Regions from separate parts of the Homo sapiens genome. Here region 2 is reported to be linked to region 1. The links are microRNA targets in miRTarBase. Many come from high-throughput screens and were not tested one by one. Region 1 holds a microRNA gene; the other region holds the end of a gene's coding sequence.
The links. The annotated mature microRNA hsa-miR-4743-3p reads UUUCUGUCUUUUCUGGUCCAG and lies in region 1 at 2,584-2,604, opposite strand. An mRNA with a match to its seed (bases 2 to 7 or 8) in the 3' UTR can be bound and repressed. Matches are read on the target gene's strand: a 7mer-m8 pairs with bases 2 to 8, a 7mer-A1 pairs with bases 2 to 7 and ends in A, and an 8mer does both.

Region 2: the mRNA of TNNC1 is a reported target of hsa-miR-4743-3p. The part of its 3' UTR that is shown has no 7-base or 8-base seed match.

The regions. Positions count from the first base shown.
Region 1 is chr18:48,668,080-48,673,251 of GRCh38, reverse strand. MIR4743 (microRNA 4743) reads right to left here and starts at 2,652; the gene lies at 2,584-2,652. CTIF (cap binding complex dependent translation initiation factor) reads right to left here. Exons shown (of 12, transcript NM_014772.3): 6 at 2,508-2,583.
Region 2 is chr3:52,446,734-52,451,733 of GRCh38, forward strand. TNNC1 (troponin C1, slow skeletal and cardiac type) reads right to left here. Exons shown (of 6, transcript NM_003280.3): 5 at 4,658-4,794; 6 at 4,367-4,573. The coding sequence ends at 4,542. Among named protein-coding and RNA genes, the nearest start is that of SEMA3G, 4.1 kb to the left of the region's middle. RefSeq lists a silencer at 3,280-3,574.

The DNA of each region.
Region 1 (5,172 bases):
AGCAGCACTCACTCTAGAGCACCTGGTGCTGGGGTTATGAGGCTGAAGGAAATGGCCCAGCCCTCAGGCAGCCCAGAGTCCAGGAAGGGAGTCTGGCAGTTATGTAAGCAGGTGCGACGTGGTGGGAGCCATGCCACAGAGATGGGGGCAGGGGCTCTGGGGAAATGGCAGGTGGATGCTGGACTCCATCCTGTGCATCTGAGAGGGATCAGGGGAGGTATCCTGAGCCAGAAAAAGGACAGGCAGAGAAGGGCTGAGTGAGATTTTAGGCAGAGGGAACCGCCTGCTGGTGAGAAAGCAAGGAGAGATGGAAGATCAGAACAGATCAGGGGAGGGACTGACAGGGCCACAGGATGGCAGGGGGAGCCCAGGACAGAGGCTGGGCAAGGGTGCTGAGAACATCACAAAGCCTCCTGCCTGCTAAGGAGTCCGAACAGGGACAGAAGGGGCCGGAGATGGGGGTCTGGGCCTCTGTGGGTTGAGAACATGCTGGGGACACAGCTGGTAGGATCTTTATGCCCCTCTTCTTCTGGGGTGCAGAAGTGGAGGGCAGGTAGGCAATGGGCTTGAGGCCAACCTCCCTTTGTCACCCTCTTTCCTTCTTGCCTCCAGGTAGGGAGGGGAGGCCAGCCCTGATTTTTGTCTAAGAAAGTCTCTAGGAAGCCCGCTTATCTATGTACAGGCTCAAGACTCCCATAGGAGGGCTGGAGGTCCTCAGGCTAGAGGTGGGCTTTCCCTCCCATTTGGGGGCCTTCAGCTGGATGCACAATATCTCCTAGGTGAATCTGGAAGTAGGAGGATGTTTTTGGTGGTCACTATGCCTGCCCCTCTCCAGTGACGGCCATTCAGTGGCAGAGGCCAGGAGTCCTAAATATCCCACATTGCATTGGACACGTCCATACTATTAAGAGTTGTCCCCACCACATATGCTAATAGCTAGGCCAGCTGACCCTCAGGACCCAAGGCCAGACGAGTGAACCAGCCAGCCCTATTTATGAGGGGCTTTGAAGAACACTAGGAAAACTCAGATAAGTCATCCCATTGTGCTCTCACAGGACCGCAAATTCCTCAAACACCAAAAGTCTGTGTTTGGGGATCAAGAAGCCTGTCTACCTTGTCCTAAGGGTACCCATGTGAATTGTAGATACTCCAAGGAGCAGTCAAGCCAGGAGCATTATCAGCCAGGACTTTAAGTTTTCAACTCTTGCTGATAATCAGAATTTCCTACAATGCTTTAAAAATGCAGATTCTAGCTGGACACAGTGGCTTATTAAAAAAGCCCACAATGACCTTCGAGAGATAAAAACTACAATGTCTGAAATGAAAAATATACTGAATGGGATTAACAGTAGATTTGACACTGGAATAAAATATTAGTGAACTTGAAGAAATAGCAATAAAAGCTATCCAAAATGAAACACAGAGAGTAAAGAAAGACTTTAAAAAATCAGGCAGAGCTTTGGTGAGCCATGGGAAAAGATGAAGAAGCATAGAATACATACAATTGGAACCCCAGGGTTGAGGGAAAGTAGGAGGAATCGTGGCTGAAAATTTTCCAAATTTGATGAAACTATAAACCTACAGATCCAAGAAACTCAATAAATCCCAAGTGGGAGAAACATGAAGAAAACCACCACACCAAGGCACATCATAATCAAATAGATGAGGTCTTAACTGTATGCTCTATTGTCTCTCATTGATAGGCCCAAGGCATGAACAGAGAAGAAACAAAATGGCAAAGGCACCAGGAAGAGATGAATGGATATAGATAAAATAGCAGGAGAAGAATCAGGAGAGAAGGGAAGGGTGGCACAGTGGAGTGTGGTGGTAGGTCATGGTCACTGGCAGCGGCAGACTCAGTCACTGTGGAAGGTCCACTGCTTTTACACCCCTGCAGCAGGCCCAGTCACACTCCTGAGAGCAGCTAGACTCCTGCTGTTTCCACCAAAAGTCCAGCACTATAAGTATCTAGAGACCTGGATTCACTGAGTGAATCCTCTTTGTCCTGGAACCTGGCCTGATTCCAGGAAAGAGGCCCAATCAATAAAAAAAAGAGCAAGCATAGCAGACACCTGGAGGCCAGCAGGGCAAGTCCACTGTTCAAAAGCCTAAAGACAGCCCCAGCCACATTAGAATCTCTTCCAGGCCTGCCAGTCCCACCTGAACACACCACAGGACACTTCACCTGCAGAGAGGTTTCAGGCCAAGGGACAAAAACTTCCAAGTTCACTGAGTTGCCAGGGCATGGTCTATTTCATCTCTAGGGCACATCAGGCCTGCCAGCAGGGCCTGCAGCATCACCGAGTAGGCTGTCACACACACGATCACAATGGGACACCCTGGAGAATGGCAGGTAGCCAGCCCTGCCTATTACTACCATACAGGCGGTTACACTCCTTGCTGGAACAAGCAGCCAGAAGGAGTGCTTTGGTTAGGTCCTGTCCAGGAAGAGGATCAGGACTCCAGGGGTGGGGGTGGGCTGTTAGAGAGCCTGCCCCTGCACCTACCTGCCAGGCTGGAAGGACCTTCTCGATGTCATTCAGGTTGATGCCATCCCCATCTTCCAGCTTCCCTTTGCCACACCTGGACCAGAAAAGACAGAAAGGCATTGGAAAGATGGCTCATTCATGCCTCCTGTCCCATCCGGCCAGCAGGAGAGGAGGGACAGTCAGCAGATACCTGGTGCTGCCCACCCTCAAGCCCTGCAGGGGCTGTCCCACCTAGAGGAAACAGCCCTAGAGAAGCTGTGTGTGTGTGGGGGGGGGGTCCTCCCGTAATGCAACAGCCAACCTGGAGGGAGGTGGGAGAGGAACCAGAGTTCCCCTTGCTCCTTCCAGGCAGAGAAGCTAAGCTCCTTACTCATCACAACTCCTGTCAAAGCCCATCCACCTTGCCCCATTACACTGAACAGAAGATCAGTGGACAGAGACACCAAGCAACTTTCTCAAGGTCACATAGGCTGGCAGGGGCTAGCAGAAAACCCAATAGGGCTTCCTTCCTTTTTGGCTTGACTCTGGGTCAGTCCAGCAAGCCCACTCAGATAGTCTATGCTTTGTCTTCATGTCCTCTGTGAGTGGGCGTGCCCTCGGGCCAGAGAGGCTGGCCCCAACTCCCTGGCCAGAGGTCTGAATCTTTGGCATATTTAAGGGTGCAGATTCCGAAACCAGACTCCCAGGGTTTGAATCCCCGCTGCATCCCTTACCAACTGGGGACCCTGTACAAGTTGTTTAACCTCTCTGTACTCATTTCATCAAATGAGTTTCCTCATTTGTTAAATGAGGATAATAGTGTCTAACATCTTAAGGTGGCTGGAGGATTAAATTAATGAATGTATCTGGAGTGCTTAGATGCTTAGAACTGTGACAGCCCACAGTAAACGGTACATATATACACACATATATAGTCTAGCTTATATATATATATATATATATATATATATATATATATATATATATATAAATGTTTAGCTTGTTTGTTTATAAATGTGTGTGTGTATATTTCTTGTGTATGTATTATTATCTGTATTTACCATTAAATATATCTTAAACATACACACATATGTTTAATGGTAAATACTGGTAATAATAACAAAATTAAAATAAATAATGAAGTAAATATATTGCTACTACTATGACTACTTTCATTACCACTAATATTGTTGCTGTTGTTTAGGCAAAGAGGCAGGAGGGTGATTAATTAAGGACACAGATTCTGGAGCCAACCCAGCCTCATGCAAATTACTCAATTTCTGGGTCTCCTAGTTGCTTCATCTATTGAAGAGAAGATGGTAACAGTTCCTCCCTCTCTGGGTGGTGGCGAGTTTTAAATAAATGAGGCAAACACTTAGAACAGAGGCTGGAGCATGGCCGGTGCATAGTAAGTATTGTCAGTTACTATTATTACTGGTATTGACTGAGGAATGGTGAGAGATGTCCCATGAGTTGGGTCATTTTCCAGCTGCAGAGTTCATACGAATCTCACCTTTCAGAGTAACTAGTTCATTGTTTAAACATTTACCAAGCATCTCTTCTGTTTTGGGCCTTGTGAACCAAAAAAAAAATCAGTTTTGGTTCCTGCCCTCAGACAGTGGATGGCCCTTAGAACAAATCCTAAACTCCTCTAACAGGGCTGGGTGCCGGAGCACCACTGGGGGCAGCACGAGATCGGTGTCATAAAAGTCCTATGGCCAGAGGCGCCCTGGAACCCAGAGGAGGAGAAACTAGCTGCAAACACCAGCAAAGGCCTGGGTGGAAGAGAACAGGGGGCTAACCCAAGCCCCATTTGATGGCTCATTTCTCCATTCACCAAACACTTCTGTGCCCGGCTCTGGACAGGGTCTGGGACCCAGGTGTAAACAGTGCACACAACTGCCCCTCTCGGTGTCTGGCGGGATAATCACCCCCCACAGTAGAGCAGCAAGTGCCCCGCTGGGGACAAGGGATCGTTGCAGGAACCCCAAGGAGCAGCGTCTAGAACTGTCTTGGGCGAGGGGCAGGAGGAAGGTGAGAGGTGAGCTGGCCAAGCACAGGGAATTTGGGAGGATGTCCCAGGCTGACACGGCGCAGGCAAAGGCCTAGAGTTAGGAGCATGTGTGGTGCCAGTTTGCTGTGGCTAGAGCATGTTAGGGGTCAGGGTGCAAGGGGTAGGCAAGGGGCATGGTGGAGCTGGGGTGGGGAATGGTGTGCAAGGTATAACAGGCATGAAGGAAAAGAAAAAGTTTCCCCCGGCCCCCGGCTGTCCCCACAACTGTGATGTGCTGGGGCTACAGGTGAGCAGGTGGAGAAAGGCCCGGAACATCCAAACATCTCTTAACTCATCAATCTGCCTGGTGCAGACAGGCTGGCCTGTGAAAGCACCAACTGCGTGTAGTCTTCTGTGTTCTGCACCCGCCTGGGCCATAGGGGAGGAGGGCACTGGGGACTTGGCTTGACTAGAATGGCTGATACCACCTCCCCAGTGTCTCCTGTGGGTAAAACACACCTCAGGACTCTCTCGCATGCACTGAGCTCCAAGCACACGCTGGGCACCAGCCTAGCACACTCCAAACACAGCTTTCTGTTCTCGCCTCAGCGCCCCTGGGGGTGGGCAGGTGGAGGCCTGCAGGGAGGGCTGCTGTCCCACGAGGCCTGCCCTCGTCAGGGCTCAGATCTCCCCAGAGGCCTGCAGGTTTGG
Region 2 (5,000 bases), not on the chromosome of region 1:
ACTGCTTCTGTCTCTGTTTCCCTGGGGAGGTGTGGCCAGCACACTGCCCAAGCTGGGGCCAACTTCTAACTGGAGACTGAGCTAGGCAGCCCTTCAGCCAGCATGTGACCACCAGCGGCGGGCAGGAGGCCCAACACTCCTCAGCCTGCCAGCCCATCCTGGGGTCTCAGCTCAGCCAGACACCCAGCAGGGGCTGCAGGGAAGCCTGGGTCGACTGGGGAAGGGTGTGGGGGCAGCCTACTCCACACTGCGGAAAGAGCCTGTGGCAGGCTGGGAGTCCGAACTCTACTGTTAATGTGTGTGGCCTCAGTCAGGTCCTCTCCTTCTCTGGGCTTCAGTTTTCCAGGCCTGGGGGCAGAGGGTAGGGATCGTCTCTAAAGGCCCCCCTGCTTGCCAGCTGCAGGTGGGAAAGACCACAAGGGTGCTCCGAATTCGAGGATCAATGGGCCCAGACACGGGCATCGTGTGTCATCTAGTGGACAAAGAAGGAACTGCAGGAGGCCCCCAAACTCGCTGTGTCAGGCCCTGTGTTGGGGTAGCAGGGCCACCCAGCAGAAACAGCAGCCTCTTGAGGACGCTAGCAGTAACCAGGCAAACACAATATAAAGAAGCAGGAGCAGTGGAAGATGCTCCAGTGATTGCTCTTGATGGAGGAAATCAAGGGAGGCTTCATGGAGGAAGCACTATCCAAGCAAAAGCCCAGAAATGGAAAGGATGCAGCAAAACAGGCAAAACTAGGTGATGCATGAAGGATACAAAATGCCATGTACTGGTGGGAGATGGTGAGCTGGGCTGATACCTATGTGAAGTGCGTGTTCATGCAGCAGGTGCCACCAGGTGGATATGTGGAGGGTCACAGCCCAGCCTCTCCCAGCCAGAATTCTGGGGTGGGCATGCCTGGAAGGAATGGATGCCCCCAGTCCCCTCCCCACCAATTTCATGGATGGAACAGGGATATTAGGACAATGCCATGCCCCCTCCACCCCCACGGACCTCCAGCTGCTTGCAGAGGGTGAGCCCCCCCACTTCCCATCAGCCATCCCTCACAGCTCCTCCCGCCCCACCCCAACCCTCCTACAGTATCTTCTGGGGCTTCCATCTGCAAGCAGGGCCATTCATCTCCTCCTCCTGTCCCAGGACCTGTCCCCCTCCCCACCACAGCTGATGAAAAGAGAGCCAGGACGTGGCAGAGCCCTCCTTCCCCCACTGCCCCTTCCTGACAATCCTCACTCCCTTCAACCCGAGCACACGTGGCCCTTGTCTGAGCTTCCCTGGACCCCATATCGCTTCTCAGCTTGGGTCCCTTTCTCTGTTCCCTGGGTGTTGCCCACACCCACCATCTCCCCTGTACTTCAGCTCACTCCTGTCAGGCTCCCACCCCTCTGCTCCACGGAAACCCTCCTGCTCAGGCGGCTGAGGCCTGGGGGCCTGCAAGTTCCCAAACCCTGGGGCCACCAGACAAACCCAAAGTGAGTGAGATTCTACAGAATAACTGGCCTCAGCTCTTCAGAGGTGATGAGGAAACACTGAGGACCGTCACAGGCTGGTGGGGAGTAAGGAGACAGGAGGACGAGGTCACGTTAGTGCCATCTTGGATTGGTTCCTGCTCCAGGACAAGGACTTTAGGACAACTGACAGAACTTCAATAAGCTGTGCAGATTAATTAGCAGTGTTTATGTCAATATTCATTTCCTGTGTTTGATCCTTCTGTGGTTAAAATGTTAACATTTAGGGAAGCTAGGGTACCTGTAAATGGGAGTTCTTTGTACTATTTTTGCAAGCCTGGAATTTCAAAATGAAAAGAAAAAAAGCAAAAAACCCCACTAAAACCTAGTGTTGGGAAGTAAGCTCCACTTCCCAATACCCCACGGCTGAACCTGTGTCTCCTCCCAGCTTCCATATCTCAGGAAATGGCAGTTTGGCCAAAAAGCTAAGGGTCATTTTGGATTTTCTTATTTCTCACCCTTCACATTCAAGCCTTCAGCAAACTCTGTCCATTCTAGTTCCAAAATGTGCCTTGAATCCATGTACCCCTGCCCACTCTCCCCAGCACCCCACTGTACTGGAAGCCACCGGGCTTTCTTGCCCAAAGCCTGCCGCCACTTCAGGCCAGCTCCTAGCTCCGTCTCTCCCACCCCTTTTGCCCTCTGCAGCCATCACCCCTTACATTGACTGGGTCCTCATGGGGCCTGGCACTGCCCATGTCTCCCAAGACTGCTGGGGCTTGGTTTCCAGCCCAACACTGCCTTTCTGCTCCTGAGACCTTCCCAGTCTTTCTCCATGGCCTCCCATGGCTGGTTCCCTGTGGTTCCCCCAGATCTCATGCAGAGTCAGCTCCTCTAGGGAGCTTTCCCAGACCACTGTAACTCATGGGCCCACCATGCCTCCAGTCCCCACTCCAGCCCACGCTGGCTTTCCCACTGTACTCATCTCCTTAAAATTCCACCAGATTAGGCCGGGCACGGTGGCTCACACCTGTAATCCCAGCACTTCGGGAGGCCAAGGTGGGCGAATCACTTGAGCTCAGGAGGTCAAGTCTAGCCTGGGAAACATGGTGAAACCTTGTCTCTACTAAAAATACAAATATTAGCCGGGTGTGGTGGCAGGTGCCTGTAATCCCAGCTACTTGGGTGGCTGAGGCACGAGGATCGCTTGAACCTGGGAGGCAGGGGTTACAGTGAGCCGAGATTGTGCCACTGCGCTCCAGTCTGGTGACACAGCGAGACTCTGTCTCAAAAAAAGAAAAAGGCCGGGCGCGGTGGCTCACGCCTGTAATCCTAGCACTTTGGAAGGCCGAGGCAGGTGGATCACGAGGTCAGGAGATTGAGACCATCCTGGCTAACACGGTGAAACCCCATCTCTAGTAAAAATACAAAAAATTAGCTGGGTGTGGTGGCGGGCGCCTGTAGTCCCAGCTACTCAGGAGGCTGAGGCAGGAGAATGGCGTGAATCTGGGAGGCAGAGCTTGCAGTGAGCTGAGATCGCACCACTGCACTCCAGCCTGGGTGACAGAGTGAGACTCCGTCTCAAAAAAAAAGAAAAAAAAAATCCACCAGATTAGGGACTGGGCCTCACTGTGACATGCCCCAGGATCCAGCCCTGTGCTGTGCGCGTGGTGGGTGTGTGAGTGAACCACTGGGTGGTGCACCGGCTGCTGGTGCTGCCCGATGTGGCGCTTCCTTTTATCCTCGGATGTCACCCTTCCTGGGTCACTCTGGGTGTCTGTAGAGGTCCCCAATTCTCCAGCTCACAAGGGCAGGCCTGAAGGGACTCCTCTCTGCTCCCCTCAGGTCTCTCCAGGGACCAGAAAGCTCTTGCTAGCGCTGGCCTCCATCAGAGGCATTTTTAGAATTCCAAGACCATCTCTGGAATGCCAGGCCTGTCTGGGGAATGCCAAGGCTGGGGCACAGGTGCAGAGAGAGTGGAGTGGCTGGGCGGGGCAAGGTCAGCTGACGGCATTCTGGCTACAGCCTGGGTGCTGCTGGCAGCTGTCCCTCCTGCGAACACCTCTGCTGACACTTCCACTTCCTTGCAGCCCCCAACGCCCACGCCTCCAAGACAGCATCACTGTCTGGCGGCAGCTCTGGACTGGGTGCTCCCACTAAGCTGAGAGCTGCCAGGCCTTGGGCCTCCATCCCTGCCAGGGAGAGAGACTGGGCCACAAGAGATGAGCCTCTGAGGTTCACGGGAACTGGAAATCATGTCCATTTGGATGTGGCCCATCCGACAGGGCCCTTGGCTGGAAGCCAGTTGGCTCTGCTCTCCCCCACACTCACTGGATGACCTTGACAGGTCCCTGCACCTCTCTGGGCCAAACAGGTGAGGGGAGATAGAGCCGACTCCATGCCCCTCTGTCCCTGGGAGTCAATGTTGCTGGCAGGAAATACAAGCAAGTGGGCGGGTGGACTAGCACTGTGAGCCTGCAGGGACCCCACAGGCTCAGCTCCATTCCAGCCACGGCTGAGAGGTAACAGGGGTTGCTGTGCCAGGGAGCATCCAAGGGCCTGGCTGTGTACCACAGTGAACCACTCTCTCCAAGTAGAGGACCCCTAGGCTGCCACAGTGGTTGACCAAAGTGATGGCCCCCAGGAACTTGTGGGGGTTCTAGGCCCCCACAGACTCCAGATGCTGAATCCCTAGAGATGGTGCCTGGGCCTGAGGAGTGATAGAGGGCAGCAAGCAGGGCAGGCCACACGGCAGTCTCCGATCTCATCTCACCCCCCTGCAGAAGGCAGTGTGGAGCGGTGGTCAGGCGCCAGGCTCTGCAGCCAGCCTGCCTAGGACAGGGAAGGAAGCGGCCATTGGGTAAGAGTGGGTCCTGGGGATGAGTCCACGGCCCAGGGACACCAGAGCCAGATAGCAGACCTTGGGAGAGCAGGCTTTATTTGCATCCCCCAGGACAGATCTGGGGAGGGAGTCGGGGGATTTGGGGTTGAGGACATGGCCAGGCTCAGGTCCTGGGACCCCGACCCCCTCCCCAACCCCAGGACTCAGCTGGAGTTGGAGGCTGGGCATAGGCAGCTCTGGGTGAAGGTCAGCATCTACTCCACACCCTTCATGAACTCCAGGAACTCTGTGGAAAGAGGGGCAGGTGTGGGTTGAGGGTAGGGGCTGGGCAGGGCATGGAGGCAGGAGATCAGCCCACCCACCCGCTTACCATCATAGTCGATGCGGCCGTCGTTGTTCTTGTCTCCGTCCTTCATGAGCTCCTCGATGTCGTCCTCCGTGATGGTCTCGCCTGTAGCCTGCAGCATTATCTTCAGCTCATCCAGGTCGATGTAGCCATCAGCATTTCTGTGGGGAGGGGGCTCAGGGTAGGGCTGTGGGGAGGGCATGAGGCAGCCCCACCCATGCCCCAGGAGGCAGAGCAGGGACACTGGGAGATGGGGCATCCCTCTCCCCTATCAGGCAGAGGCCACAGGGTCCCTAGGCCTGGAATCTGAGACTGCCCTCCTGTACAGCTCGGCTTGAGTGTGGGTCAGGGTCAGAGGTCAAGGGTC